Linked DNA regions of Homo sapiens: all the other regions are linked to region 1. The links come from fine-mapping of genetic effects on gene expression. A gene starts in region 1. Each other region holds a variant in brackets. All regions are shown on one strand. Distances are from middle to middle.

Region 1 (11,032 bases):
ATTCTGTACTATGATATATAAGTGTGTGTGTATATGTGTGTATGTGTATATATATGAATATATGTACATGTATGTATGTACATAAACATAGAAAAAGAGTATTATAAAATCCATAAATCATTGGTGAAAATCTGAACTTACAAAGTAGATGATTTGGGAGCCATTTTTTTGTTTTGTTTTGTTTATAGACAGGGCCTTGCTCTTTCACCCAGGCTACACCCAGCTACATAGTGTGATGATAGCTCACTGCAGCCTCAAACTCCTGGGCACATCCAGCTAAATTTGAAAAATCTTTTGTAGAGACAAGATCTCACTATGTTCCCCAGGCTGGTCTCAAACTCATGGCCTCAGGCAATCCTCTTGCTTCAGCTTCCCAAAGTGCTGGGGTTATAGGCATGATCCACTCTGTGTGACCCAGGGTGTAGTTTATATCACATTACAAATTATTTTTTAACTTAAAACATATTTATTTTCAATCATACATTGAAATGGCTTTTTTTCTCCTTAGAAATTGAAGGTAATATGACAGCTATGCATATCTTCTTAGGGACATTTATTTTACAAATGAAGTTATACCTTTAGTAGGCAATAGATAGAAAAGTAGGACCCAAAATAAGAATTTTGTTTGGCTCTTCCTTCTAGTTCTTGCCATTGAGAGAATATTCAGAATAGATACTACTTGATACTGATTTTTTTGCCATATAAAAAAGTATACTAAGTTATCTATGATAAAAATACATTTCATAATGATTCTCTGTTTTTGCTCTATTTTCCATTGTTTCAAATATGCTTGGGTATGCAAAAATGTTCTCGAAACTGTAAATAAGCAGAGAAATGTTGGTTGTTTCTGCTGTCATTCTCTCTTCATTGCTTTTAGTATTTCTTTCCAAAAAAAGTACTTGCCAAGAGAAAAATGTAATTTGTTTGTCCTTGGCAACAATGATTTGCCAGCTTTTTATTTGAATATTTTTTCTCACTTCTTTGGGGACTTGTTCAGTTTTCTAAAGTTGAAAATGAGGGCTGCCTAAAGCTCATGCCCATTCCAGGAAATTTGTTGCCTCTAAATGTTTCCGGAACTAAACACTTTCTATTTATTCCTATTGTCACAACCTAGGTGGCACTCTCAGCACCTCATTTGGCACAGTATCCTGGTGGTGCTGCCTCTGGTCTCTCCTCCCTTCAATCTGTTCTATCTCACGCTACAAGAAGTGTCATCCTGGAACAATCTTCCTATCATGTCTTTGACATGCTTAAGGTCTAGGTTCTTCCCTTACTCTTCGTTGACATTCTCCAACCAAACTTCTCTGCCTAGGTTTCCCAAGAGAAGCCCTTAACTCCAGTCATCTGATTGCTGCATGCTTCACATTCTCTATAGCTGCAGTGCCTTTCTCCTTCTCATGGCTAATCTACAGCCTTCACACCTTAAGTCTCGCCATCTACCAGAAGTCTGCAGTGATTTTTCCTTTTCCTGAATTATAATAACAACCTTCTTTCACTTGTTCACCATGTATTGATCAACTAGTATGTGCAAGGTGTTCTGGGCATACAGTGCTGAGTAAAGCTATTATGATCTTTGCTCTTTAATTGAGTCTTAAATGCTATAGTGGAGTAGTATCCAATTGTTTTTTATATAGATGAATTGACCTTTCAATTGGCTTGGAAATTTCTTATTATCAGGAACTATCATGATCTATAGTCTCACCAGTGCCTATCAAAGTGGGGCAGACAAAGTAAGCTGTTGTCTTGACTGGACAACTTCAAGGTCTACCCTGTAAATAGAAGGCCAGATCACTCCATTTAGGTTTTCTGCAGAATTCTATTACTTGAAATGCCTCTGTGAAACCAGAGAGCCCAACACTCAACTCAAAAGAATCCACATGCAAATTCCCTCTTTTACAGAGTAGGCCTTGTCTTGGTGATTTTTTTCAGAGAATTTTTTATTTAAATACATACTTTTCCATTCATCTTAGTAGTAAGTCCTTCAGGTGTTAGAAATTTAACACAAATGACTTCAATTCTTTAATGGAAAAAAACCCAAAAGAAAGGAGAAAAAAAAATCTTTGTAGTTTCTATAAGAATTGTAATTTCTCTAAAGATTATAGTGGTAGCAGAAAAATAAATAAATAAATCACAAAGAGAGGACTCACACCCCCCCCCATAAGAAACAGTTATCAAATAATTAGAAAAAGATAAAAACAAGCTGTAAACATTGCCTCAAAGCAGAATTAGAATTACCAAGTGTTCTCTGGGCTGGGAAAATGATGAATCAGATCTTACTCATGTAGGGGACACGCGTCTTTGCCAAAATTCAGAATAAAGAGTATGAGTATTGCACAAAATTTGCCACCTGTGATTTTGCTGTCAACTGACACTTTTCCCGTCCCTAGCAGCTTTAAGTCTGCAGAACTGTAAATCCCTAGAAAGGCCTACAGGGCCACCCAAGATTCCTGAGCTTTGCCTTCAAACTGATGGTTCCATGAGGTTCCACTGTGAAAAGAGCTATCCAGAGATTTTCAATCCAGGAGTCACTTAGTCTAATGAACAGCCTCTTTTATCTAAACCAGAGGTTCTTAGCTGGGGAGCAGTGGATTCCCCCAAGAGGATCAGGGATAGAATTCAGGAGCTCCATGAATTTTAATGGGGGATATAAAAAACTCATCTCGGCTAGTTGCACTGGTTAATGCCTATAATCCCAGCACTTTGGGAGGCCGAGGTGGGCGGATCACCTGAGGTCAAGAGTTTGAGACCAGTCTGGCCAACATGGTAAAACCCTGTCTCTAATAAAAATACAAAAAAAATTAGCCAGGCGTCGTGGTGGGTGCCTGTAATCCCAGCTACTTGGGAAGCTGAGGCAGGAGAATCACTTGAGCCTGGGAGGTGGAGGTTGCAGTGAGCCGAGATCATGCCATTGCACTCCAGCCTGGGTAACAGAGTGAGACTCCGTCTCAAACAAAAAAAAAAAAAGAAGAAACTCATCTCTACTTTTATTAACTGTAATTGAAATGTAGGTAAAAACTACAGAAGTATTAGCAGTCTCTGGGACATTTTTACTCATATAAATCACAAATATATTCTTATCACATTTCAATTGTTATAAGTATTTCAAAATATCACTGATAGTTCACAATCACAGCAGTTATTAGAACTGCCACAAAATCTTACTTAATATGTTAATAAAGAAGCACATATATTACTATTCTACTCATAAATGTTTTTTTATTTGGTAATTATGTATTTCAATATAATTGGCTGTTTTTGTAATCTTATATATTTTATTTTATGCATTTAAAAACTTTATGCCAAGAAAGGGGCCAGAGACCTCAGCTGACTGCCAAAAGCCAAAGGTGTCTGTGACATTAAAAAAAGTTAAGCACTCCTAGCTCAGTTCTCATTTTTGATATTTGTTAACTGATCACATGGATTTAAAGAAATTGAATACTAGGTGTAGATCGAGGTATACATTCAATGTGAAATCCTTCAAACTCTTGGAATTATTGTATGCACCACTCTTGGAGATAAGTATCCATTTCATTAAATGGAAGAATAATACAAAGTCCATAAAAATAGTTAATGTGTTACTATCATTTCACATAGTAGTAGCAATAATATTACATATAGTTTTAAATCTTCTACTATGTCCCTGCCGATTTTGATTGTTAAAATCACCCTCAAGATAATACTGTTACTTCTGTATTCTCATTTAATTGTCACATCTTTAAAGGGAACAAGCAGACCAGATTACATCCATGTTCCAGATGAGAAAACTGAGGTTCAGGAAAGCTGGAGGCCCCACAGTTGATCAGTGTAAAAAAAAAAAAAAAAAAAATATTTTAATCTCCACTTAACAAATGAGAAAACAATCTCTGAGAGATTAGGGAGGTTGCAGTAAGTGTCAGGGCTTGGATTTACATCTCATTTGGCCGGATTCAAAAACCTTGTGTATTTTGCACTGTGTCACGCGGCCTGCCTCACAACTCCTTTCTACAGATTATAAAGCTAAAGGATTGCTAGAAATGACACCCTGGTGTGCCTCTCCCCACCCCAAGAAAATTGTACTCAGTTGAATCACAGGGTGTACCCCAGGGAGAGGAAGATAACGCATTTCCAAAACTTTAGCACAGCTCAGTCCACTCGACAGCCCCAAGAGAGGGGGCGTGTCTTTGGGATATTAGCACTGCTTTCTCCTTCAGGCCCTGCCCACCTAGTCACTGGTGAGTCCAAAGCCTTCCCCCTCGCTCTGTCGAATCTCACGTACACAGCCCTTCCCAGATCGGGATGTGTGTTCTGAATCAAGTAATTCGCTATGGCATGCAAATCATTATATCATATAGATGTGTTTTTCAAAATCTGATTAATGGTCAGTGCTTGTATATCTTATTTCCCATTTATGGGAGGTAAACTTTATTCACCTGTGTGATTTTGAGAGGCAGAGAAGCATTTTCTCCTCACTTTTCATTCTTTTTGCTTTCTAATTTGCTATTAAGCTGTTGCATATCACAAACTAAGAGCATGATTGCTAATTCCATTAGAAGAGCAGATAGTAGTGGGAATCCTTGACCTCTTAAAAAGTGCCAGGCTTTCTGGGCACGGTGGCTCATGCCTGTTCCGAGCACTTTGGGAGGCCAAGGCGGGTGGATCACCTGAGGTCAGGAGTTCGAGGCCAGCCTGGCCAACATGGTGAAACCCTGTCTCTACTAAAAATACAAAAATTAGCTGGACATGTTGGCACGCGCCTGTAATCCCAGCCACTTGGGAGGCTGAGGCAGGAGAATCGCTTGAACCAGGGGTTGGGGGAGTGGGGAGGAGGTTGCAGTGAGCCAAGATCTCACCATTGTACTCCAGCTGGGCAACAAGAGCGAAACTTCGTCTCAAAAAAAAGTTCCAGGCTTTGGAGGGCTTGGGAAATTGTCCACGGAGTGTCCTCAAACTGCGAGCCCTCGTATGGTAGTACAGGCTCATCCTAACTACCCTACTTTTTTCTGGAAGCTGTCATTTTGGTCATTGTGGTAATACCATATTTAATCTGTTTCAACTCCAGCGAGATTTATAGTCTCTGATGTTGCTTTTGATTCTTCTCATGTGTTGCCTGCTTATTTGCAAACTGGTCTTCTTAATCCATGCTTAAACTCTGCATATCAATTAGTCTTTCTTTAACTATAATAATGAAACTGTCACAAACTCATGCATATTTAAACCTATTTTTTAAACTCATTTGCTTATCAGATCTATTTTAAGAGCATGGTCATATTCAGTTTTGCCTTCTGTCCCAAATCCTCACTCTCCTGTAACAGTCTCCATTTAAATGTTTACAAAGGATTTGTCCTTTTATATATTTTGCACATTATTTTGGTACTCCAGAGATAAAACCTAAAAGCAACAATACACTCTGCAAATTTGGTTTCACTTCCAAACAATATGATTGCCTCCCCCACCTCACACACACCAAAAAAGCTTTATCCCAGTCAACTTTCTTAAATATCTAGGCAAATATTATTGAACTATTAATACTTTCACTTGAAATGTATTACAAGGTATTAAATGTATTGTGTGTTACCTTATATAACACTGTAGTCTCCTTTAATTAACAGGTAGAGAGTTAACAGTAAAGTTAAATGTTGAACATCTGCAAGAAGAAGAGTTGAATTTACAGTTTTCTTTGTCATAGTGGCTTAAGAAAGATTTGAGAGAACAACGGAAGTATAATACTTTCCTTCCTCTCTTTTGTCTTTTCAGGCACTTCCACAACTTACAGAATCTTAGTTTGGCTTATTGCAGACGGTTCACAGACAAAGGCTTACAGTACCTGAACTTGGGGAATGGATGCCACAAGCTCATCTATCTGGACCTCTCTGGCTGCACCCAGGTTTGTCTTTCAGTCTTCTCTTTGCTGCGGTGTGTGAGGAAGTTCTCCAGAGAATGGGCTGCATTCAGCCCTCACGTTATACTAATGCTGTGCACGGACCGCAGCACACTTTTCAGAGGTTTTAAATTACATGGCCCCAGCTGCTGAAATTTTCCCCAGGATCGCTATTATAGGCTCTTGGCTTCCTTCCACTGGAGTGTCACACAGACAAACAGGCAGAGCTCATTGGATGAGGAAACGGACCACTTTTGTGGAGACAGTCTGAGCACAAGTCTAAAGCAGAGTCCAAGTCCTGAAAACTCTGGAGTTGCTACCAAGACACAAACAAAGAGAATGTTTTGAGGGAGAATTTTGCATGGGATTCCTGAAAAGTCAATTAACTCCCACATGGGTTTTTTTTTGGGGGGGGGGGGGTAAAATGCTATAAGTGATAAATAGGAAAAGAAAATACAACAAAAACTCATAATTTAAAAAATTGCATTACACCGTTGGGCTGAATAACATGAAGATTTGAGATCTGCGTGGGAAAATATTTTAAGTTTGAGGGAACAGGACTTGGAAAGTTGGGCAGAAAATTGGATCAAGTTGCAGAGGATAGGGCATGGCGCTTTGGATGTAGCTACTGCCTCATTGATAGTTTCTTCTGCTTTAATTTCAAAAGATTTAAGCCATAATTCTTTTAACTTATTTTCTTCTGCCTCTCTGTGTATTTTATTAATTTGGTGTCATAGTATGTTCATTATTCTATGAGAATAATAGCATAGGTGAGAACTGGCTGAAATATTGATAGTTATCATTTCTTGAGTCATTACCATATGCCAAGCATTGTGTTGAGTGCTATACACAGATCAGATTTACTTCTGATACAGTGCTGTGGTGGTATGTATTTACTATGCTTATTTACAAATGAAGAGACCAAGGCTCAGGGTGGTTGAATAAGTTGCCCAAGTTTGCACAGCTGATGAAAGCACATGGTACTAGTACAGTTTTAAGCATCTGTTGCTAGATACTGGGGCAGGCAGAGTTCCCTGGGATAGTGGGAAATACAGGGGCAGCATGGGTTTCTCCCCCAGGGTTCTTGAATGGATAGAATTCTTACCTAGTCACCTCCACTGACATCTTGTGGTATCCTGATGCCCTGGGTGGTCTGGAGGGAGTTGGGGCAAGGAGGGGAGGATTCTAAGTTAGGGCTGTAAACATCTAACATTCATATTTGTTTAAAACTGATCTGCTGATGTGTAGCTTTTTAAACATCAACATCTACCATAACTTTATGACTGAGATGGCATTGACGTTCTCCTCAGCATGACTGAATTTTAGACCAGCTTCTTACTGACTCTAGGCCCTGACTTCTTGTTTTCTTGTTTCTTAGAGCATTTGTTTTAGAAAACTTGGAATTATAAGTTCTTTCTCTGCCTACTTTGAGATGTCTTTTTAACAAAAGCTTCTTGACAGTTTTACAACTCAGGAAAGTCTTCCTCAAGGACCTGGGATCTATCCCTTTGATATATAATCATCAAAGAAGATATCTCTCAGTTCCTGTGGGTGGGTAGAAGCCTAACTTTGATGGGCACCAATTAGCAAATGCCAATGGCCCAATCACAGAGAAAAATATTTGCAAACTCAGGAACAACTTAATGTGCTTGACATATCCCACTGATAAGCCTGCCCCTTAACTATAAATCCTTCAGTACTTTTCTAACTCGCCGTTGTGCTTAAACCCTCCTCATGGTATGACTTACCTCCTTCTTCTTATCAATTTCTCAGTTACCATGAGGCAATTATTGTAGCAACAACACACAAATGTATACACAAGTGTCCTAAGGATAAATATTCTCAGACACAGTAAAGTTGAAATGAGAGGCTTCAAATCTATGACCTACTGCCCAGATATGCATACAAAACACACATAATTGGAGGAGGTGAAGCAAGATGGTGGAACAGAAGGCTCCACCCATTGTTCCCCACCCAAGGACACCAAGTTAACAACTATCTACAGAGAAAAAACACCTTTGTATGCTTTTAGGCTGGGCGCGGTGGCTCATGCCTGTAGTCCTGGCATTTTGGGAGGCTGAGGCAGAAGGATTACTTGAGGCCAGGAGTTCAAGACCAGCCTAGGCAACATGGTGGGACCCACGTCTCTACCAGAAATGCAAAAAATTGGCCAGGCATGGTGGTGCATGCCTCTGGTCCCAGCTGCCTGGGAGGCTGAGGTGGGAGGATTGACTGAGTTTGGGAGATTGAGGCTGCAGCGAGCTGTGATCCCACCACTGCGTTCCAGCCTGGGAGACAGAGTGAGACCTTGCCTCAAATAATTAAGTAAATTTGTTAATGCTTTTCTCTTGCACGCCTGTATTTTGTTAGGAGTGTTGGCTGTCACCCTTATGGGTGAAAAAAGGTATCATACCTTTCTGCCCCATGGTACTAACAGGACAGAGACCTCAGGTGTCTAATAGCTGCTTGGTGGTGGTAAGGGGTAAGAGGAGCAGTGCATGGGGATTCACGTGGTGTCTAAGAAGGTGGCATCCAGCAGGGCATAGGCTATTTACAGTTGAGAGCCCGTGACAAACTGGAAAACAGAGATTGGAGCCCGAGCCACGCTGAAGCACACACCAGGCTGAGAGCTTTTCCCAGGCATCGCATACAGCACTCCATGTGAATAAAGACCCCCTCCCCCCAACACACAAAGAAAAAAAAAAGAAAGAAAAAGAAAAAACACCTTCATAAGAACCAAAAATCAGATGAGCAGTCATCGTACCTGGTTTTAACTTCATATGACTGAAAGAGTCATTGAAGAGATAGAAACAATAGTCCTGAATCGCCAGTGCCACCCCTCCAACATGGTGCAGAGAGCCTCTCTGGGTGCTGGGGAAGGGAAAATACACCAATTGTGAGGCATTGAACTTAGTGCTGTCCTGTTGGATCAGAGAGGAAAACTGGACCAAACTCAGCTGATGCCCACCCACGGAGGGAGCATTTAACCCAGGCCTAGACACAGGGGAATTGCCAGTCCCAGCAGTCAGAACTTGAGTTCTACAAACCTCACCACTGAGGGCTACAGTGCGCTGTGCCTCCAGGTAAACTTGAAAGGCAGTCTAGGCCATAAGGACTGTAACCCTTAGGCAAATCCTAGTGCTCAACTAGGCACAGAGACAGTGGACTGAGGGGTACATGACATACTGAGACACCAGCTGGAGCAGCCAAGGGAGTACTGGCATTGCCCCTCAACCAGCCCCAAGCCTCACAGCTCATCGATCCAAAAGAGACCCCTTCCTTTCCCTTGAGGAGAGGAGAAGGACGAGTAGGGAGGACTTTGTCTTGCATCTTGGATACCAGCTCAGCCACGGCAGGATAGGGCACCAGTTAGAGTCATAAGGCCCTCGTTCCAGGTTCTAGCTCCCAAGTTACATTTCTAGACACACTCTGGGCCAGAAGGGAACCTGCTGCCTTGAAGGAAGGGACCCAGTCCTGGCAACATTCATCACCTGTTAACTGAAGAGCCCTTGGGCCCTGAATAACTAGCAGCAATACCCAGCTACTACATTGAGGGCCTTGGGTGAGCCTCTGTGACTTGCAGGCTTCAGGTGAGACTCAGCATATTACCAGCTAGGGTAGCTATGGGGCAAAACTCTTGCTTGCGAGGGAAAAGCAGTGGGGACAGTCTTACACCTTAGATACCAGCACGGCCACAGGAGGGTAGAGCACCGAGGCAGGTTCTTGGGGTCCGCGATTCCAGGACTTGACTCTTGTATGGCAATTCTGGACCTGCCTTGGGCCAGAGGGGAACCCACTGCCCTGAAGGATGAGTCCCAGGTGAGGCAGCATTCACCACAAGCTGACTTAAAAGCCCTTGGGCCATAAGAGAACATCATTGGTAGCCTGGCAATACTACTCATGGCCTGGGGTGGCGGTGGCTACAGGGTAAGGTTCCTCTGCCTTTGGAAAGGGGCAGAAGAGTGGGAAGGACTGCATCCTATAGTTTGCATGCCAGCTCAGCCGCAGTGCAATAGAACACCAAGTAGACTTCTAAGGTTTTTGACTCTAATCCCTGATTCCCAGAGGGCACCTAAGGACTCACCTGGGGTCTGGGGGACCTCACCACCCTGAAGAGGAGGACACAGGCCTGGCTGGCCTTGCCACCTGCTGATTGTAGAGCCCCAGGGCCTTGAGTGAACAATGGCAGTAGCCAGGAAGTGGTTACAGCAGGCCTTGGGCAAGACCCAGTGCTGTGATAGCTACAGGTCTGACCCAGTGCAATCATAGTGGTGGAGGCCACAGGGGTGCTTGTTTCACTCTACCACCAGTTTTGGGTGGTTCAGAACAGAGAGACTCTGTTTGGGAAACAGAAGGGAAGAGAACAAGAGCCTCTGCCTGGTAATCCAAAGAATTCTTCCAGATCTTGTCCCAGACCAACAGGGTGGTACCTTGACAAGTGTGCGAGAACCACAGCATTACTGGGCTTGGGGTGCCCCCTAAAGCAGATACAGCTTAGATTACAACACTCAAGTCCTTTCAAATATCTGGAAGGCCTTCCCAAGAAGGATGGCTACAAATAAGCCCAGGCAGTGAAGACTACAATAAATACCTAACTCTTCAATGCCCAGACACCGAAGAATACTGGCATCAATACCATCCAGGAAAACATGACCTTACCAAATGAACTAAATAAGGCACCAAGGGGCAATCCTGGAGAAACAGAGATATGTAATCTTTCAGACAGAGAATTCAAAATAGCTATGTTGAGGAAATTCAAATTAATTCAAGATAACACAGAGAAGAAATTCAGAATTCTATCAGATAAATTTAACAAAGAGATTGAAATAATTAAAAAGAAACAAATTCTGGAGCTGAAAAATGCAATTGGTATATTGAAGAATGCATCAGAGTCCTTTAATAGCAGAACTGATCAAACAGAAGAATTAGTGAGCTTAAAGACTGTTTGAAAATATGCAGTCAGAGGAGACAAAATAAAAAAGAATGAGTCTTTATAGCAGCATGATTTATAATCATTTGGGTATATACCCAGTAATGGGATGGCTGGGTCAAATGGTTTTTCTAGTTCTAGATCCTTCAGGAATCGCCACACTGTCTTCCACAATGGTTGAACTAGTTTACAGTCCCACCGACAATGTAAAAGTGTTCCTATTCCTCCACATCCTCTCCAGCACC
Region 2 (10,525 bases), 150 kb after region 1:
GGAAAAGTTTATGCATGTATGCCAAATAGTTGAAGAACAAAGGACTTTTGAAGTGCAGAGAAAATGAGAGAACTAATACTCAGCAATTTATCTATCAAGATATGTTTCCATAGAACTTAAAATAGAGCCTAATTTACATAGGAAATCTAAATATTTAAAATAGAGTTTTATTCATTAGTCACTGTTCCGGATCATAACATAAATTTTTAAAATACACAAAAACAAGTAACATGAACACTCTTACATCTTAATCGAATCAGTTTGTTTAAATCATGGGTTATAAATAAAACCAATCCTAGCAAACCATTTCAAGGAAGTTTTTCATTGTCTCCAATAGAGTCAGAAAAACCATATTTATATTTAAAACTGTATTTTGTAGAATACATATAAATATATGCATGTATTATACATGCACAGCATTCTTTGAAAAGTATCAATATTCAAATATCAGAATTTAATAAAATATTATTCATATAAAACCAAATTTAATTTTTGATTATTTAGAAGGAAATCAAGATAGTAAACTCATAAAATTTTACATCTAAACACAACCTATTCAAGTACCTATTCTCCCACTAGATTCCCATCGTCAGAAAGTGAATATTTAATAAGTCAATGAATAAACTGGTTTCTTTTGTAGTAGAAGGCATACACACTTAACAGATGTGATTCAACCAACTATACAAATAGGAAATATGACTAGTCAATTAGCTTACTCAGTTTCTTACATATAAAATATAGTTAGCTATACTTAAAAATTTCACTTGAAAAAACACTTAGGATAAATTATTTTCTTCTCTATACATAGGAATCAACTTGCAAGGCCAGGAAAGATATATTGCTCCTTTCATTACTCTTTTCCTCATTAATGGGCATGCTCTAAGTACTCGGCACTAGTATGTTAGATGTTGCTTTGCCATCAGGGTATATAAAAATATTGAAAATGCAGACAAAAAATAAATTTCATGCTCTTGTTTCCTTTCATGGAAGACTTAGAAGCCACACACTTAAGACAGCACCATCACTTTTATGGAAGGAGTCCAGTTCCTGAATGCTACCATGGAGCTAAGCCCAAACACTGTATGGAACATCTACATTTTCAGTCATAAAGCACGATAAATGTCCTGAAACTCAAGGAACTTATAATGTAGAACATAGCTGAAGCAGTGCATCTGTGTTATAGTACTGTCTTCTTGGAGGAAACATCTTTACAGTGAGCCAGGAAGCCCTCAAAGTGATGATGGAATTTGCGGTTGCAATCAAGTTCACTGTTTAAAAACCTCTCCTAGAAAGCCAAGAAACTAGGATCAAATCCTTGCTATTCCACTAATTAACTTGTGGAGTTGAGAGTAAACAATTAGACATTTCTAAGTCTAGTTTTCCTCATCTGTGAACAGCCAATTGTTCATTAAGTAAAAGGGGCTGGCCAATTTAGGTACTCAATACATGTTTGCTTTCAACCACCCACCCACCCACCTACTGGCACAAAGGCTCCAAACTCTACTTGTAAAATCCACCAAAAAGAAAGTTACTGCATTATATTTGTGTATAAATGGTTTTTACAACATCTATATGTTGGATTTTTTTTTTCTGCTCTCTCTGGAAAAAAATTAGTTTAAGCCTTGCTTAAGAAAAAAGAAGCTAAAGTAAATAAATCCTGACCAAGAACGCATATATTCTCAGTTTGTTTTCTGTAAGTCAAATGTTTAGAAATAGCAATGTATTTTCCCATAAAAACAAGTTTTAAGATTCTCAAGCCAGTTTATTTAAATATAGCCAAAATATATACCTAATTTGTGTTATATAACCATCAGCATTTAGCACAAAGAATTCATTGAAATATATATCCAGAGTTCTAGGTTGGGAAGATCTTGGGAGAAATAATTCCCACCAAAATTCCAGGAACTAGAAAACTGGGACTTACTTTCACCAGCCATGACTCTAATCTTCTCACCCACCAGGATGTGAGACTAAACACTGCCCGCTCTCCTGTACCCCTCCCATCCCAAACCCCAGACTACAAACTCCAAAAGCATGTTCATACAATCCCTTAGGACAAGGATGGAAATAGAGGTGATAGGGGAGAGGAAGGCAAGAAACTTAGAAGTGTCTGAAGGGTGATTTTTTAAAAGTCGAGGCACTGGGGTGTGTCCATGGAATTAAGAGGGGTTTCCTGTCTTAGTTCTCTCTTGTATATGCTGAAAAACCAAAGCAGAGTGAGGAACAAGGACTAGGTGGAGAAAGCAAGGCTGAACATGGAAGCTTTTCTACAGTTACTTCTGTGAAAGTAACTATAATTTGAAACTGGATTAAATTTTCCCTTCCCCTTCTCCTTCTCATTGCTGTACTAGTATTACACAAAGAAGCTGTGAGAAACATCTAAAAGAGTTCTTTGCATTGAGGCAGGGTGATAATGGACCACTGGAAATGAGGTGGGAAGTAACATCCCAAAGGGGATGGTAGTAACTGAGAAAATAAGAAAGTATATTTAATCCTTCTACTCTACTCTGAATTCTTTAACGACAGGTTTCACCTCCTGCCCAACTTTGCACCCTTGGTGCCTGGAAATCTGGCACACAGTAGGTGGTCAATAAATGTGTCAAATGAATGAATAAATATAACTGTAGTAGATGCTATATTCCTCATCCAGATCCCACATCATAACTGAAGGGCTTATTTTCCTAGCTATTGGAGTACTGCTGGCAGACAGCCCTCAGCTGTCAGCCGTCTTTGGGAATTACCTAGCAAAAAGGAGTCACTTCGGCCCAAGATCATACTCCTTCCTGGGGCAGCTTGCATCTAATGATTGGGGATATAAACGTCCAGCTCCTCTCACCCCAGCTTGAGACAACTCTGAGGGACCATCCCAGCTTCAGAGCTCTCCGTGTGGGTTACTGAAACTGTATCACAGTCCAACTTCTCCCATGGAAATCTGGCTTTCTTCCTTTACATGGCATTGGTCCCAAGAGGCCTCCCTAGTAAATTCGCTGTGCTCAAATTTCCATTTCAGAGTGTCTGCTTTCAGGGAAATTCAACCTGAAACAATAGTCCAAAAGAGGACCTAGATTTAAACCAGCTAAGGAAAGGTATCTGATTTCATATTAAAGGTCAGTAAATATAAAAAGGTTTTATTAAGGCTAAGGAATTAACTTTCTTTTCCAGCAATGTATTTCCATTTTAGCTACTTTAAGTAATCAACAGACCTAAGTACTTTGAGGACTGCTTCAAAAAAGACCACCTGTTTTACTACCATCTAGGCAATTAATGATAAACTGTACCAAATTCAATTTATCTAACTTAAAAGAATGCAAAAAAGAAACATTATGAATTTAGTGTAAACATGGTATAAAGCATTGCAGAGAACAGACTGCTTTTCCTGTGGATGTTAATCCACATCTGACTTGATAAGGAATTGTTTCTCCACTAAAAGCTACTAAATACATTAAGCACAGTATTTTTCATTATGATTAAGATAGTTAGAAATGCAATGCTTATATAAAAGTCACTTTTAAATTATGAAGAGTTACAAACTACCAGATCTACTTAAGGTACAACTGAATAAAAAATAAATAAATGAATAAGTAACAAAACCATTTGCTTCATCTGGGTACAGCTCCATATGTACTTAAGCTATTTTGGGCTCAAATAATACTTTAACCTTGCAAGAATGCTTGAGGTTTAACCATTAAATTGAGGCTCCAGAACTATTTCAAGCATATAAGTATGCTTTTTAAAATTTTTTTTTAGAAGACTACTTGCCAAATTACTACATAGCATGATTAGCACTAACCATGCTTTCTAATGCCACTCTATAACTCTTGCTCACAACTAAAATCTGAGAGTTTTGCCAGAGTGTACAGATACCAATATCCAGCTTTACTATAGAGGTGAAATGAGTGGACTATATATGGAAAAAGTCCGAATCTGTACTTCCTGGAATATGGCTCAAAAGGCATTTAGCAGATGTTTTATACTGGATTAGTGATTATTAATTCTATCTGTATATATTTCAGAAAACATACCTGGATTTGAATCATCTGCTCTGTGGAAATTCAAGAAGCAGCTGAGTGACACTGAACACCAGCATGCCCTTTGCCATATTACCTCATCATTATACTCTTATTTTCTTTCAATAATGCAAACATTAACTATGTAATATTTCTTGCAGAGACAGGATTTAGAAACCAC[A/G]AGAGGATATTTATCAAAGAAAATGGAAACAACAGGGTGCTGAGAAAACCTGGTGCCAGTACAAATACACGCAAAACATTTAAAATAAAGTTAGTATCAGAGTTGCTATAATTACCTTCCACCAAATGTTTCATTAATTTAACCCTCAGCTTTCTTATGTTAACATAAAAGCAATCATTCAGTACCCATCTTTACCTAACACTGCTTTTACTTCATCTCCTGCATGTATTTCCTTGCTATTTGTTTCCTATTATAAGAAAACACAGGCTGGATGCAGTGTGGCTCACACCTGTAATCCTAGCACTTTGGGAGGCCAAGGGGGTGGGTCGCTTGGGCCCAGGAGTTTGAGATCAGCCTGGGCAACATGGCGAAACCCCATCTCCACTAAAAATACAAAAATTAGCCTAGCGTGATAGCGCACACCTGTAGTCCCAGCTTCTCGGGAGGTTGGGGTGGGAGAATCACCTGAACGTGAAAGGTGGAGGGTGCAGTGAGCCAGTGTCACGCCACTGCACTCCAGCCTAGGCAACAGAGCAAGACTCTGTCTCAAAAAAAAAAGAAAAAAGAAATGCATTAAAAATTAGACTTACTATTAGTTCCATATATAACAGCATAATCTTTAATCTCTTGCACAAATAAAATTAAATTAGCTTTATGAGTCATTTTATTTTTATGGTTTTTTTTTTTAAAAAGATGGTTAGTCTGCATTTCATTATTTAAAAGGCCAGTTTCCTGATCCTTTTTTCAACTACAGAGTCATCTCTTAAAATTTATGCTATGTGGAAAGTCTCAGATGTATTATGCCTTTGTCAGCTTACCATGAACACTTCCTAATGTAATATCCCCAGCAGCAGAAGACAGAAATGATGATTCTGTATAAAGATACTTGGCTTTCAGCAAACCATCTTCGGTAGATACAGTAACAGAACTTCCCTGCAGTTTATCTATGGTCACAGCCTAGTAAGAGAAAGACTAATCAGTTCATTATAAAACAAAGACTGGTAAAAAGCCAAAATGCTACCTGTGGAATCAGTGGATAACTACATAAAATGTTACTACCTAGTACACAATCACTTTATTGACTCTGATTCCCTACCTCTAATTACGAGATTCTGAGCAATAGTGCATTCTCTGCAGAATATGGAACAGATCCAATACATTCCCCCATTGACTTAGGTCTCCTTTAATTTCTCTTAATGTTTTATATGTCCTATATAAAATTCTTAATCTTTTATTAGATTTATTCCTTTTAGATATTTTTAAGTGCTATTGTACAAGGTATCTTTTAAAATTTCATTTTATCCTAATTGACTTTGTATTTGATCTTAATCCAACAACTTCACTAAAGTCACTAATCCTAATAATTTATCTGTACTTTTAAAAATTATATATGTGTTATTATACTGTCTACAAGTGATGGCTTCATTTCCTCCCTTCCAATCCTTATATTAATACTTTTTTTCCTGCTTTTTCTTTCTTTTTCTTGCCTTAACCATCTGTCTCAGGCCCGCAATTCAACAGTGAATAGCAGCTAGCAGAAGCAATGGGACAGCAGGCATCCTTGTCTTATTCCTGTTCTCAAAAGAAAAGTTTACAACATTTCACCATTAAGCATGATGTTTGCTATAGATATTTTTAAAATAATTTTTATCAGATTAAGGACATTCCCTTCTATTTCAACTTTGTTTGATTGCTTTTGCTATTTAAATCATGAATAGGTTTTGAATTTTAGCACATACTTTATCTGATTCTATTGATTTATCATGATTTTTCTCTTTTAGTACATTAATTAGTGAATACACTATTATTTCTAGAACTTTTCCACTTGACATCTAATAAGGCAGTAGCTTTCCACCAAACTAAATGGAAGGAATTTAAATTTACTATTTAATGACAGAACAAAAAGTAGATTTAAAAATCAGTATCTTCCTGACAGAGGTATTGCTATAAATTTTCTTTTCTACATGAAAAGAAAAATTTTTCACTTAGTTATTATGAATATATATGTAAATACATATATATAGTTCTTACAAATAATGAAAGCCAAGTTTTAAGGAAGTACTGTGGCTTCATAGCCCAGACTGAGAGGAAAACTGACAACTATGTCATCAATTCACCAAATAGACGAAATGGGTTTCTGTGTTCTCTGCTAAGTTATAAAACTAAACTTAGATACTGAAATTAACACAATTTAAAAACAGTCATGTAGAATAATGATGCTATTATTTATAGTGCTCATTTGATTCTCACAACCTTGTTAAGTGGACAAAGCAAATATCACCATCCTGTTTGCTGAATAATGAAACTGAGTCTCTGGGAAGCTAACTGGTAGGTCTAGAACCCGTCCAAGTTATCTTTCCTGTGATTCCTTTACCTTTATCATCATCATCGTGGTAAGCATTACATTAGACTTAGCTATGTGCCAGACGTTGTTTTAAGTATTTTACCTGTATTAACTCATTTAATCCTCTTAATAGAGGATTTTTTTAGTTTGTTCTATTACTATTACCCAATTTTCCAAAAAATTGAGACACACAGAGGTTAAGTAATTTGTCCAGTTATAGAGCTTAGTGAATGGTGGAGCCAGAATTCAAACACAGGTAGTTTGGCTCTGAATATATTCTGTGCTCTTAACTAATTCACTATATTTGTCTCTCAAATATCCAAATCACATTTCTATGAAAGTTGTGTATTAAAAGTTAATAGATTTCACAAGTATTTATTTTATGTTTTATAAAAACTACAAACTTAGAAATATACATTAAAAATCAATACTATATGTAATAAAAATAGGAAAAAAACCCTAGACTGATTCTTTAGTACATAACAAAACTCAATCAAGAAATAAAATTGTATAATAGCAAGTAAAACACATGAATATTCAATAAACCATAAACATTGGAACAAATAAATAACTGAGAGGAAACAGTGGCCAAGATATTCAAGGTAGCAAATGATTAAGATATTAAATTCTTTGATACTTATATTTGAATGCAAATGTTACAATATTCTAGTAACTTATTTCAATAACATTAGCCATCATTTACTGAGTTTGAAGGGGCTGTAAATTTGTCTAATTTCCCTCTTGCACCTCCAAGACCACAGCAATCTAAAAAGTAAAACTAAATGCCATCTCAAAAAAGCTGCAGCATAAGGCCACACAGTGTCTTTCAACACTTTCCTAGTATAATTTACAGAGTATTTTTAAATGTTTAGGTTTAAACAACCTCCCACGGGGTCTAAGAGAAAGGTGATGGAAGATAAAACAACAGAAACAATTACTGTTATAACCTACCTTGTTTAATTATGCCAACAATAATCTACATATAAAATGTGCTCACAACTCCTCCCCACCAACTCTGAAAATAAAGTGACCATGGAATATAGCAAATTTGTAGGAAGGTGATGGAAGATAAAACAACAGAAACAATTACTGTTATAGTCTATCTTGTTTAATTATGCCAACAATAATCTACATACAAAATATGCTTGCAACTCCTCCCCACCAATTATCTGAAAATAAAGCTGACTATGGAATTTAGCAAATTTATAAGAAACAAAAAAGCTCTTGCAAATTGTATAAGTGTAAAATAAAAGGAAACTTTTTCTCAAAGATACATTATCAATCACATTTTTTAAATGACAATTTATAATTCCAAAATTATACCTTTACTCTTAATACTATGCTAAATAACCAAAAGCTACAAAAGGAGTTGATTAAAAAATACCAACTATCTTCCTATAACAACAAAAATCCCAATAGCTACTATAAAAAAAAAAAAAAAAAAAAAAAAAAAAAAAAGCTGTGAGAGCAGTAAAGCTATCTAATGGTGCCACCTTGTGGAAAATACTGAAGAAAGCTGAGTTTTGAAACATCCTTCAATTTGCCTAAGGGCGAAGTAAAAAGGTCTTAGAAAATACTCAAATAAACCTAACACAAGAAAAATCCAATCCAGTTACTGGTGATATTACTTAATCATCTATTTTAATCTATGATGATAAAAATAAAAATCTTTTCAGAACTAGAGTTAAATAGTAAGCATTTAAGTTTTTATTGATTCCAGACTAGGAACTAAGTAACTGTCAAAAGTATTAAACCACAAACTAAAACTTAAGTTGTATATTATTTCATCACTTCAATTTCAAATTTGAATTTACTTATGAACTAAAATGCATTAAAAAGGGAATGTTATGCTACGAACTTTGTAGAACCTACCAACTTGGTGAGCCAAATGGAAGCAAAGTTGCAATTACTAAAAAAAAAAAGAAAGTTTCAATCTTACACTTTTATCTGATGCATGAATATCTATATTTCCATAAACTGTTCCCAGACAGATCACTTTGCCTCCTTTTGTTTGAACATGCAATTTTTGACCCTGAAAGACAAATTTAAAAATACATATAGTGAAAAAGAGAGTAAGTGTGACTTATACTAGTGAAACATTTTCAATATTTCTGTATTAATACTGACAAAGCAACAAAAGAACAATAAGGAATGAAATAGAAACTCACTGCTTCGAATAATGACATCAACTGGAAAAAAATGTCAACTGCTGTTAAAGGGATTAAATAAGCCACTTGGACTCTAAGGGAAAAACAAGAGATACTTGGGTATTCTGGTAGCTTCACTGATGAAGGACTTGGGAATCAAAAATCACTGTGACCAGCTAACTAAATATCCACAGTGATGAAGATGACAATAATAATCAGTTACTATTCATCATTAATAACAATAATAGTTATCACTTATTTGGCATTTTCTCTGCACCAGATACCATGTTAGCTACTTCACATGAACTATCATTTAATCCTCACGACAAACCAGAGAGATAAGTATTACATTTTTCCCATTTTACAGAGGAAGAATGCCAAGATTCAGAAAGGTAAATCACTTTATCAGGGTGACACAGAAAAAAACCCAAAATCTAAAGTAACAATTAGAATCAAGTTCTGTATGATTCCAAAGCCCACACTCTTAACGCTGGACCGGTCTGAAGGACAGAATACACATTAGGTTAACAGCCCACTTAAACCTTCTAGCACAACACATCCCAGAAACTAAGTAAAAATGCCTCCGAGCACAAAACAGCAGTCACAAGCCAGTTAGCCTATTCTGCAAGACAGAAAACAAAAGTATGTGTATGTGTGTGTGTGTGAGTGACTTGATTTTGGACTTGAGAACTATGGCAAACACTACTATTGGCTCATCAAAATCCATTTTTTTCCAAAGTAAAAGCAGTATAGCTTGACCCATGGCAAGACCACATTTTCCAGCTTCCTTTACCTCTTAGGTGTTGTTAAGTTGTTACCAACATAACGTAAGTGGAAATGCTATATGCCATTTCCAGGTTGGTGCTTTTAGAACAAGTGTGCCTTCTCTGTGCTCTTCTCATTCCACCAAGTGGGTCCAGAATATAACAAGGCTCTAAAAGATGGCAGAGCCGGAAGACGGAAGGAACCTAGAATCACTGAATGAAAAAGACCCACCCATACACCTGGACACAAGTAAGAAATAAACTCATATTATATATGAGCCATTAGATGTTTGGTCTATTGTTTTTTGTTTTTGTTTTTAGACAGAGTCTCGCTCTGTCGCCCAGGCTGAAGTGCAGTGGTGAGATCTCGGCTCACTGCAAGCTCCACCTCCTGGGTTCAAGCGATTCTCCTGCCTCAGCCTCCCACGTAGCTGGGACTACAAGCGTATGCCATCACGCCAGGCTAATTTTTTGTATTTTTAGTAGAGATGGGGTTTCACCGTGTTGGCCAGGATAGTCTCGATCTCTTGACCTCGTGATCCACCCGCCTCAGCCTTCCAAAGTGCTGGGATTACAGGCATGAGCCACTGCACCCGGCCTAGTCTGATTTTTTTTTAGAGTAGTTTATTTTCCCTTAATCATTATATATGTCTTTAGTTTTATTACATAAAGAGATATGGATCACTTGAGCCCAGATGTTTTCCCTTAATCATTATATACGTCTTTAGTTTTGTTACATAAAGAGATATGGATCACTTGAGCCCAGATGTTTGAGGATTCAGTGAGCTAGGATCGTGCTACTGCACTCCGGCGTGGGCAACACATCAAGACCCTGTCTCTTAGAGAAAAAAAATCTGTACTATAGCATGGTTAACTACGTTATGCCCAGAGACATGAGTCTGAAGTCAAATTATATTTAATATACTCCTTATCAAATATGTGATAAACCTTTGAAAAGACTATCCACAAAGCACTTTTTTTTATTTTTTAATTATTTTAATTATTTTTATGTACAGAAAACACAACAGTGTACATTTAACCCAGTTTAGTGGCAAGTTCTTTAGCCTTTGCCTTTTCGAGCT
Region 3 (11,032 bases), 51 kb after region 1:
TATCTGGCCGGGCACGGTGGCTCACGCCTGTAATCCCAGCACTTTGGGAGGCCGAGGTGGGCAGATCATGAGATCAGGAGATCGAGACCATCCTGGCTAACACGGTGAAACCCCGTCTCTACCAAAAATACAAAAAAAATTAGCCAGGCATGGTGGCAGGCACCTGTAGTCCCAGCTACAGGAGGCTGAGGCAGGAGAATGGCATGAACCCGGGAGGCGGAGCTTGCAGTGAGCCAAGATTGCGCCACTGCACTCCAGCCTGGGCGACACAGCAAGACTCTGTCTCAAAAAAAAAAAAAAAAAAAAAAAAATATATATATATATATATATATATATATGTCTAAGTCTATCACTCCCTGGCTCAGAGTTCCTTGGGGACTCCACACTGCTTACAGTATCAATGGGCTGGTGGACCAAGCTCTTCCTGAGGCGGCCCTTGGCCACCCCTGCAGCCCTGCTTCCAGCTGACTCCCGCCTCTCATCCTCAGCTCCAGACACACAGAACTGACTCTCCTACAGCTCCTCAAACATGCTGTGTTCTTGTTTCCCCATCTCTACAAGTTATTCCCTCTGTCTGAAACACCTTCTCCACTACTTGTCCACCTAGTAAATTCTTCTTTTTTTTTGTTTGTTTGTTTGGGTTTTTTTGGATACAGAGTCTTTCTGTGTCACTTAGTCCAGAGTGCAGTGGCATCATCATAGCTCACTGCAGCCTCAACTTTCTGGGCTCAAGTGATCCTCCTGCCTCAGCCTCCCAAGTAGCTGGGACTACAGGCACATACCATCATGACTGGCTGATTTTTCAAATTTTCTTTTGTAGAGATGGGGTCTTGCTATGTTCCCTGGGCTGGGCTGAAACTCCTGGGCTCAAGTGATCCTCTTGCCTTGGCCTTCCAAAGTGTTGAGATGTTAGGCGTCAGCTGTCATGCCTGGCCTTGCTTATCTCTTAAGTTTCAGCTGTGGGGAAGCTTTCCTAGAATTTCTGGGCAGGCTTAGGATCTCCTTCTTTGTATTTCCACTGCACTTTGTATATGTCTCTACTGAAGCAATCAGCTTGTTATATTCTAGTGTCTGTTCCATGCCTGTCTCCCTATAGCACTGTAAGCTTCCCAAGAGCAGAGACAGGACCATCCCATCTTTGGGATGCCTAGCAAGATGTTCATAGGAGGCACATAAAATGTTTGATCAGTGAGTGAATGAATGAATCTGGCACCATTTCCTTCCTCTTAACCAAACACTTAAGTCTTCTTTAAATTCCACATTGTCTCAGCTATGCTCTGGGCTGGAGTGGAAGCACTTACAGCTGCGTGTCTTAATCTGATGATACAATTGCAAGAGACCACCCATCTGCATGGAACACACACAAAAATAAAGCCTGAGTCCAGTGAAGCAAAACCTCTAAAGCAGGAAACACATGAAATCACTTGGGATTCAAGAAATAGGAAGAATGAGAGTTGAAAGGAAGCACGGTAGTTCAGAGACAAATGGATTTGCCGTGGATTTTCAAAAAGCACATAACAAGAAGTCTGCCCAGTTATGGGCTTTTGGTTTTTTTTCATATGGAGCTGGACCTCTCCTAGTCCTCCTCAGGCCCTTCTCTCCAGCCAGTGGCCTTACATGACTATGTTGGTCCCATCAAGCTAGTGATAGTGGTTCCTTCTCACAGAGGTTATGGTCCATTGTCTCCTGTTTCTAGCAAAGTGCCTACTAAAAACACTGCAAACAGAAGCGACCAACTTGAGCCTGTCACTTCCCTCAAGATGGATCTTTGGCAGCATGACTCTCCTCTCTACCTCCATCAAGTAGGAGGCAAACAGTCTCAAGGCAAGTTGGTCTACTTTCAGGTAACAGAGATGCCAATTTTCCTTCCTTCTATAAGCATCACAATACAGAATCTATGTCTGTGTGGTGATCAAAGCTTGCTTTCCTTTAGACTTGTAGGTCAATAAATTAGGTCAGAGAGGTTGATACATTTTAAAAAGAAATATGATTACAAAATTCATACTAACAATTGATTAAGTAGAAATAAACAAAAATAATTGAGAAGACTAGTAGTTCCAGCTACCGAGGAAGCTGATGCTGGAGGATCCCTTGAGCCCAGCAGTTTGAGATCAGCCTGGGTGATACAGCGAGACACTGTCTCTTAAAAAGTAAAATAAAATAGGCTGGGCACAGTGGCACACCCCTGTAATCCCAGCACTTTGGGAGGCCAAGGCAGGCGGATCACGAGGTCAAGAGATCGAGACCATCCTGCCCAACATGGTGAAACCCCGTCTCTACTAAAAAAAAAAACAAAAATTAGCCAGGTATGGTGGCGCGTGCCTGTAGTCCCAGCTACTTGGGAGGCTGATGCAGGAGGATTGCTTGAATCTGGGAGGGAGAGGTTGCAGTGAACTGAGATCACGCCATTGCACTCCAGCCTGGTGACAGAGCAAGACTCCGTCTCAAACAAAAACAAAAACAAACAATCAAACAAAAAAAACACAAAAATAAGTAAATAAAATATTGAGAAGAAAAGGTACATTATATTTATAAAAGCATAATTACTAACTAGAGTAGAAAAGGGAAGATCGCTTGGGAGATGAAGAGAAATTTTCGAGAACATTGTACATGACAGTATTATCAGTGAATTTAGAAAGAGGATGTGCTAATTGAGATAATAAATATTTCCAAGTATAACTTTTGTTCTTTATTTCTGAAAGAATGCAGTATGCAATACCAAACAGAGCAAATCTTTCAGAAAGAAGCATGTGAAATGTAAACCCTGATTCAAAGAATTCCAAACGGAAATGCATTTCATCCAAAAATTCTGAGAGTATGCCAGCAAGATAAGAGAAAATTGAGTCCGTATAAATAGATAATTTTATAGGTAGACTGATTCACTCAACAAATATTTACTCATTGTCAACTATATATCATACACATTGTTAAGTTCTGGGAGTACCAAACTGAAAGAGTACTGGTCTCAAGGTACAGTCTAATGGCAAAATAACAACAAGAAAAGCAACATCACTGTATAGTTAAAAGTTACTAAAAGCATGAATTCAGAGTATGGGTTCATATCTCAGCTGGTGCCATGGCACTTTGAGACCGCAGGCAAGTTACTCAATTTCTCTGTGCCTCCATTTCCTTCTCTTTAAAATGGTGATTATAATATTACCTACCTCACAGTGTTGTTATAAGGATTAAGTAAGGCAATGCATGTAAGCTGGCACATGGCAAGCACTATATGCATCTTAGTGATTATTTATTTGAATTCTGACATAAGATTTGTTTGCTGAAAAGGAGATGGAGGCATTGCACCACAACAGCACAGATGAGTTAGAAAATGAACACTTGGCTGGGTGCGGTGGCTCACACCTGTAATCCCAGCACTTTGGGAGGTCAAGGAGGGTGGATTACCTGAGGTCAGGAGTTCGAGACCAGCCTAGCCAGCATGGTGAAAGCCCATCTCTACTAAAAATACAAAAATTAGCTGGGCATGGTGGCGGGCGCCTGTAATCACAGCTATTTGGGAGGCTGAGGCAGGAAAATCGCTTGAACCCAGGAGGCAGAGGTTGCAGTGAGCCGAAATTGCACCATTGCACTCCAGCCTGGGCGACAAGAGGAAGACTCCATCTTAAAAAAAAAAATGAACACTTGTCTCTGTTGTCTCTGTGGAGGAGTCAAGGGAAGCTTTTTAGCTTTTGGGATGCAGCTGAAAGCTGGAGGAAGAAGCAGATGATAAGGCCTGGAGGCATAAGGAGGGTTATGTGTTGGGATTCACAGATAACTCAGTGCTGTCAGAGCATGGCCAGAGAAGAGAGGGGATGTGGAGGGAGATGAGGCTGGAGAAAGAGATGGAGGGCAGAATGTGGGTGGCCTTGAGTGCCCTGCACAGCAATTCAGGCTACATGCAGTATGCAGTAGGAGCCATTGAAGAACTCTGAGTAGGAGAGCAGGACAGATTTGTGCACAAGAAACATAACTCTGGTGGCAGTGTGGATGATCTATTGAAGAAAGGATGAGCAATTGCAATGATAGCTAGAAATAATGAGGTTTTGATAGTGGCGGCAGAGGGGGCAGATTTGAGAGATATTTAGGGGGTGGCATTGGTAGGGCTTATTCATTGGCTGAATATGGGGAACAGGGAGGCAGAGAGGAGACATAGACGATGCTCAGGTTTTTTATTTGGTCAGTTGTGAACATGGTGGTGCCACAAACCAGGAAAAGAACCTAGGAGAGCAATTAGGGCTTGGAGACAAGATACTGAATTCCATTTTGGACATGTTTAATACTAGTACTAGCACATCTCTCTAAACTATGGGCCCCTTTGATTCTGGGTGACAGAGAAGACAAACATCCATCTGACTTTTGGAATCTTTGTTTTTGTTTTGTTTTACTTTGCTTTGTTTTCCTCAGGATATCTGGAATCATAGGAATTCAGTGTGTTCAAATTCAAGCATTTCTGAAAGAAAACTCACACAAGGATTTTCAGTACCATCCCCCCCCCCAATTTTATCCCCTCTATCACAGCAAAAACTTATACTCTGTTTTATCCTTAAAAACAAATTAAAAAGGCATGAAAGAAGCCTTCTTATGTTTACTGACTGTCGGGGGACTTTTTAGATTTCCCATGATCTATACCCCCAGTAACTACATCCTGGAGTCCTGGGTGCCCCATTCCATCTTATTTCATAGAGTGCATTTTCCAATATCCTGAATTCAAATATCAAATACCCTAGGTTATATAGATTTCCCATATAGAGAAATTGGAGCCCTATAAAGAGGGTCATAAAGGTACAAAATGCAGAGGAAGGAGCCATTGTATTTAAATCAAAGGAAAGTCCATCATGAGCATTCATCTTTCACAGACTCCTGACTGAAGCTAGCAAAAAGAATAGGAAGAGCTCAATGAAATCTCATGGCTTCCAGTTTGAATTCTAGTTCTCTGAAAGTAACAGTGCTGAGTTAGAGGTGCCTATGACACATTCAGATGTCTAGTTATCAGTTAGAGAACAAGATCTGTATCTCAGGAGGGAGATCTGGGCTAGATCTAGAGATGGCTGAAGTGGTCAAAGCCATGGATGAGAGTCACAAAGAGAAGAGAAGGTCAAGTTCCAAGCTCCAGGGAACATCAGTATGTATTGAATAGATTTGGAAGATGAACCTACAAAGGAAACTGAAAACGAACATCCAGAGAAGTAGGTGGAGACAGAGGTCAGAGTAATATCATGAGAAACAAGGAAGATGCTATTTCAAAAAGCAGGGGATGGTCAGCAGAGTCA[G/A]GCTTCAAAGCTGGGTCAAGTAATATGAAGATAGAGCAGTATCCATCAATTTTTGTAAAGTAAAACTGTTCATCTATGTATATAATACTTGTACATGTTAACATTCATAGCTGAGTACTTTGCTTGAATATTAGCACATTTGTGCTGATGGTTTGTTTAGAATAGAAAGTAAACTAACCAGAACTGTGTTGCTTTGTATAAAGAAATAAAGCCTAGTGTAAATATTTTATATAATTCTTTGTTGATACACAAAAATATTCAATAACAGACACATATTGGGTTTTTCCTCCAAATTATGCTATTTTCACAAACACTAGTAATACAAAAAGAAATATGAATAATGAAAAAACATATTCATATCATTGCGCACCCTCCAAAACGTCCATTTCTTTTCTTTTTTTTTTTTTTTTTGAGACAGATTCTCCCTCTGTCGCCCAGACTGGAGTACAGTAGTGCAATCTCAGCTCACTGCAACCTCCGCCTCCTGGGTTCAAGCAATTCTTCTGCCTCAGCCTACCGAGTAGCGGGGACTACACGCCTGGCTAATTTTTGTATTCTTAGTAGAGACGGGGTTTCACCACATTGACCAGGCTGGTCTCGAACTCCTGACCTCATGATCCACCCGCCTTGGCCTCCAAAAGTGCTGGGATTACAGGCGTGAGCCACTGCGCCCTGCCCAAAACGTCTGTTTCTTTTAATACACATATACATACACTATACACACACATATGCAGATGTGAATTTTTTTTTTTTTTTTGGAGACACAGTCTCACTCTGTCATCCAGGCTGGAGTGCAGTGGCACGATCTTGGCTCACTACAGCTTCTGCCTCCTGGGTTAAAGCGATTCTCCTGCCTCATCCTCCCGAGTAGCCGGGATTACAAGCACCTGCCACCATGCCCGGATAATTTTTGTATTTTTAGTAGAGATGGGGTTTTGCCATGCTGGCCAGGCTGGTCGTGAACTCCTGACCTCAGGTGATCCACCTGCCTTGGCCTCCCAAAGTGCTGGGATTACAGGCATGAGCCACCGCGCCCGGCCTGCAGATATAATTTTGTGTACTGCTTTTTGAACCTAAGTATGTTACTATATATTCTTTATAACAAACACTTCTCATGTTTGCAGAATATTCTGGGTGTACTATAACATCTCAACAAATTACTTTTTAAATAAAAAGGGGTAAATATACCTCTTCTAATAAAGAGATCTATGGTAGTCATCTTCTGAACCAAGTGGCCCAACAGCATCACCAGTTGTGGAACAACTGGACATATGTGCCTCCCAATGGGATGCTATAATAATTCAGGAGTATTTTTGCAAAAAAAGTTTACCTTGAATCTAATCATAAGGAACAATTAGAAAAATCCAGAATGTGAGACATTCTGCATAATAACTGGCCTAGACCCTTAAAAAAAGTCAATGTCTTAAAAGAAAAATTTAAAGAAAAAAAGACTAAAAAGACATGATAACCAAATCCAATGCACAAATTGGGTCTTGGATACAAAAAAATTTGAATGTTGACTTTGTACTAGATATTACAGTATTACTGTTCATTTTCTTGGGTGTCATAATACTATATATGTCTATACTATATATGCATAATACTACATAGTTACATAGGAAAATGTCGTTATTCCTAAGGAGATGCACATGAAATATTTAGGGATAAAGCATCATGATATCTGAAACTTATTTTCAAGTAGTTCAGGGAAATTTATGTATATTTGTGTGTATATATATATGTGTGTGTATATATATATAACTATATATAAACTATGCATATGTATATAAAATTTTATTCATACATATATATGAATAAAATATGTATGTTCATATACACACTCAACTAAATAAATGTGGCAAATGTTTATAATTGGTGAATTTATATGAAGTGTATGTCAGTATTCTTTATAACCATTCTTTAAACCTTTCCGTACATTTGAATATTTTCAAAATAGAGAGTTGGGGAAGCATGTTTTCTGTTTATGTTGGTGATAGTCTAAGCCAGATGTAGTATGACTCAGCCGTATAGTAAGTACACACCACACACACACACACACAGAGCATTCCAACATTTGGTAACTAGTTCATTGACATTGTCTATGTACATCAGCTAAACAATTCCAGATGAAAAAGTGTGGGGAAAGTGTAGTGTTCAAGGATTTGTCTGCTCTCAAATGTCTGTGTGCATGTGTCTGTTCCTGGCAGTGTTCCATCTTCCCTCCCACTACTCCCAGTGACCCCAAACTGAACTACTTCCCAACAACTCACACTTTGCACATGAAGTCTCTGTCCATGCTATTTCTTCGGCCTGAAACACTGTTCCCATTGTTTCACTTGTCAAAATGATACTTAATCTTTAAGGCTTGATTCAAAATCTCCTTCCTCTGTGAAACTCTTTTCTAGACTGCCATCTCTTTCTTCCAACTGGAAGCATTCATTCCCTGCTGTGTGGTCCCTATAGCTCTCTTGAAACACATACTTCATTCTTTCTGTAGAGAATGAGTTGGTACATAAGGAACCTCATTATAGTGACTTATGTACCCACTCATATTCCCCAGAGAGAGAAAGTTCTATTTAATTCTGTTGCATAGGATGAAGTCCAGATTCCTTAGAATAATGTACGAGGTTCTTGTGACTTGGTGCTTGCTTCCTTTTGAGCCTTATGTCCTGATATGCCCCTCAATGAACGTGATACTGGAGCTATAACGAAGCCACTTTTCCACTCAGGACTCCTGGGCCCCTAAGATTCAGGCCCCTTAATTCCATTAGCAATGGAGGAGCAAAGTGCTCCCCAGGATTCCTGTGAATTTCTGGTGCCTCACATTCTCATGCAACTTGCAATGCTGGTGACTTCCCCAGGCCACCACTCCAGCTGCTTTCCTCTGCACTTCAGCTGACCATAAAATGTAGTCCCTTTTTATGCTTTGGGAAAATAAAAGCAAAACCTCTCTCCAGCAAAAGCATTCATGAGTTTGGCTGACTTATGAGGGAGACCAAGGATGATTTCCATTGCAGTGATGCCACAGCTTTCCTGAAAGGTAAGCATCAATCTGCCCTTTGCCCCACTGAGACCGAGTCACTCTATCTTGCTGTTACCTCTTGCCTCCTCATTTTTGGCCTGTCTTCCCACTCCACTCTTCCCACTCCACTCTTCCTGTCCCTCCCAGGGCTAAAACCTTGGCATCAGAAATCTGTAAAATGTAAATGTCACTTGTTTCAGAGAACACCTCCTAATTTGGAGCATTTATGAACCTCACAGTGCCAAACAGAATATTTACCTTGCTGGCTCTGACATTCTTTAGGTCACTAATCTAAAAAGTTTCTGAGAAAAAAAAAACCCACATTAAAAGTGAATCCTGTTGCCTGAAATAGTGTGTTTCACTTATTAGGCAGTGAAATTCACTGGCCTCCTGTAACCAGCATGAGGCAATTTTTAGTGGAGGCCTCATCTCTGCCGGCTCGATTTGTTGCTGCTCAGTTACAAAGATGTGTTTACTTACAGCAGAAAGGGCTTCTAGTTACTTGTCTAACACATGAGCAGGGTGACATCTCTTGCTCCCCGTTTTGCTACTATTTTTGTCATCAGGGTCTGAAGTTGCTAACAAAAATATATTAAAAGTGGGTAACATCTGTATTCATCTTGGACTTAAGGATGCTGTAGGAATATTTTCTGAGTTTTATGTACTTATACAATTATTACATCAATCTTTTTTTAAACATTTTTTATTGAGACATAATTCATGTACCATAAAACTCACCAATTTAAAGTATACAATTCAGTGGTTTTTAGTATGTTTGTTTGTGGTGGAACTACCACTAGAATCTAATTCCAGAACATTTTCTTCACTCCCAAAAGAAAAGCCCTTCCCATTAGCAGTCACTCCTTATGCCTGTCCCACCCTGAGCCTGCTTTAGGCAACTGCTAATCTACTTTCTGTTTTTATATATTTGCCTATTCTGGACTCTTCATACAAATGGAATCAAACAATATGTGGCCTTTTGGGTCTGTCTTCTTTTACTTAGGATGATATTTTCAAGTTTCGTTCATATAGTAGCATGCATCAGTACTACTTTTATTACCAAATAATATTCCATTGTATGGACCTAACATTTTATTTATCCTTTCATCAACTGATAGGCATTTGGGTTTCCACTTTTTTCTTTTATTTTTAGTTGACACATAATAATTGTACATATTTGTGGAATGCAGAGTGTTATTTCCTTATGTGTAATGATCTAATCATGGTAGTTAGTATCCATCACCTCAAATATTTATCATTTTCTTTGTGTTGTGAGCACTAAAGATCCTCTCTTCTAGTTTCTTGAAAATATACAATAAATTATGGTTAACCATATTCACCCCACAGTGCTGCAGAATACCTGAACTCATTCCTCCTATTAAACTATAATTTTGTAATTGTTAACCAACCAATCCCCATCCTCCCTCCCTGCCACTCTTCCCATCCTCTAATTCCCACAATTGTACTCTACTTTTTCGTAGCTCCCATGAGTGAGGACATGTGGTATTTATCTTTCTGTGCTTATCTTATTTTGCTTAACATCATGTCCTCCAGGCTCATCCATGTTGCTGCAAATGACAGGATTTCATTCTTTTTTGTGGCTGAATAGTATGCCATTGTGTATATATACTACATTTTCTTTATTCAATTGTCTGTTGATGAACATTTGGGTTGATTCTATATCTTAGCTATTGTGAGTAGTGCTGTAGTAAACATGGGAGTGTAGGTATCCCTTTGATATACTGAGTTCCTTTCCTTTGGGTAAATACCCACTAGTGAGATTGCTGGATCATATGATAGTTCTGTTTTTAGAGAAATTTCTATGCTGTTTTCCATAATCGCTGTATTAATTTATATTTTCACCAACAGTGTATAGGAGTTCTCTTTTCTCTGCATCCTCACCAGCATTGTTATTTTTTGTCTTTTTGATAATAGCCATTCTAACTGGGGTGAGATGACATCTCATTGTGGCTTTGATGTACGTTTCCCTGATGATGATTTTTCATATATTTGTTGACTATTTGTATGTCTTCCTGAGAGGTTTGGAGGTTCAAGCAGGGGAGTGCAGCTACTTGTATCCTAGACCAATAACCCATCCTCCTCTATCAGGGTTGGCTATCCTCTTTGACCCAGCACGCAGCTTTGGGGAGGGACACACATGGAACGGTGAGGGAAGAAGGGGACACCTGCCTAGCCAGCCAGATCAGCCGAATCAACCCTGGTGATCAATGGGGTGACAGATATCACAGCCACATCGCCCTCACATATGTCTTCTTTTGAGAAATGTCTGCTTGGTTCCTTTGTTCACTTTTTAATCAGATCATTTGTTTATTTGCTATTGAGTTGTTTGAGTTCCTTGTATATTCTGGATGTTAGTCCTTTGTTGTATGACTAGTTCACACATGTCTTCTCCCATTCTATAGGTTGTCTCTTCACTTTGTTTATTGTTTCCTTTGTTGTGTATAATCTTTTTAGTTTGATATCATCCCATTTGTCTGTTTTTGTTGCCTGTGGTTTTGAAGTCTTAGCTATATAAAATCTTTGCCAAGATCAATGCCCTGAAGCATTCCCCCTGTTTTCTTCTAATAGCTCTATCGTTTCAGGTCTTATGTTTAATTCTTTAGTCTATTTTGAGTTTACTTTTGTATATGGAGATACAGGAGTCTAGTTTCATTCTTCTAGATACAGATATCAAGTTCTCCCAGCACCACTTATTGAAGAGCACCATTTGTTGAAGAATGCA

The links.
Region 2: its variant is fine-mapped to the expression of LRRC17 in nasal epithelium (TOPMed, PIP above 0.99).
Region 3: its variant is fine-mapped to the expression of LRRC17 in whole blood (TOPMed, PIP 0.99).

What each region holds. Positions count from the first base shown.
Region 1 is chr7:102,907,917-102,918,948 of GRCh38, reverse strand. LRRC17 (leucine rich repeat containing 17) reads right to left here and starts at 5,949. Exons shown (of 4, transcript NM_001031692.3): 1 at 5,804-5,949. FBXL13 (F-box and leucine rich repeat protein 13) reads left to right here. Exons shown (of 21, transcript NM_001394494.2): 12 at 5,734-5,863.
Region 2 is chr7:102,755,893-102,766,417 of GRCh38, reverse strand. FAM185A (family with sequence similarity 185 member A) reads right to left here. Exons shown (of 8, transcript NM_001145268.2): 3 at 8,472-8,564; 4 at 5,007-5,145. It also overlaps the pseudogene RPL7AP39. Among named protein-coding and RNA genes, the nearest start is that of FAM185A, 12 kb to the right of the region's middle. The variant A/G (reference allele first, on the strand shown) is at 4,189.
Region 3 is chr7:102,856,975-102,868,006 of GRCh38, reverse strand. All of the region lies in intron 17 of FBXL13 (F-box and leucine rich repeat protein 13), which reads left to right. It also overlaps the pseudogene RN7SKP198. Among named protein-coding and RNA genes, the nearest start is that of LRRC17, 51 kb to the left of the region's middle. The variant G/A (reference allele first, on the strand shown) is at 5,268.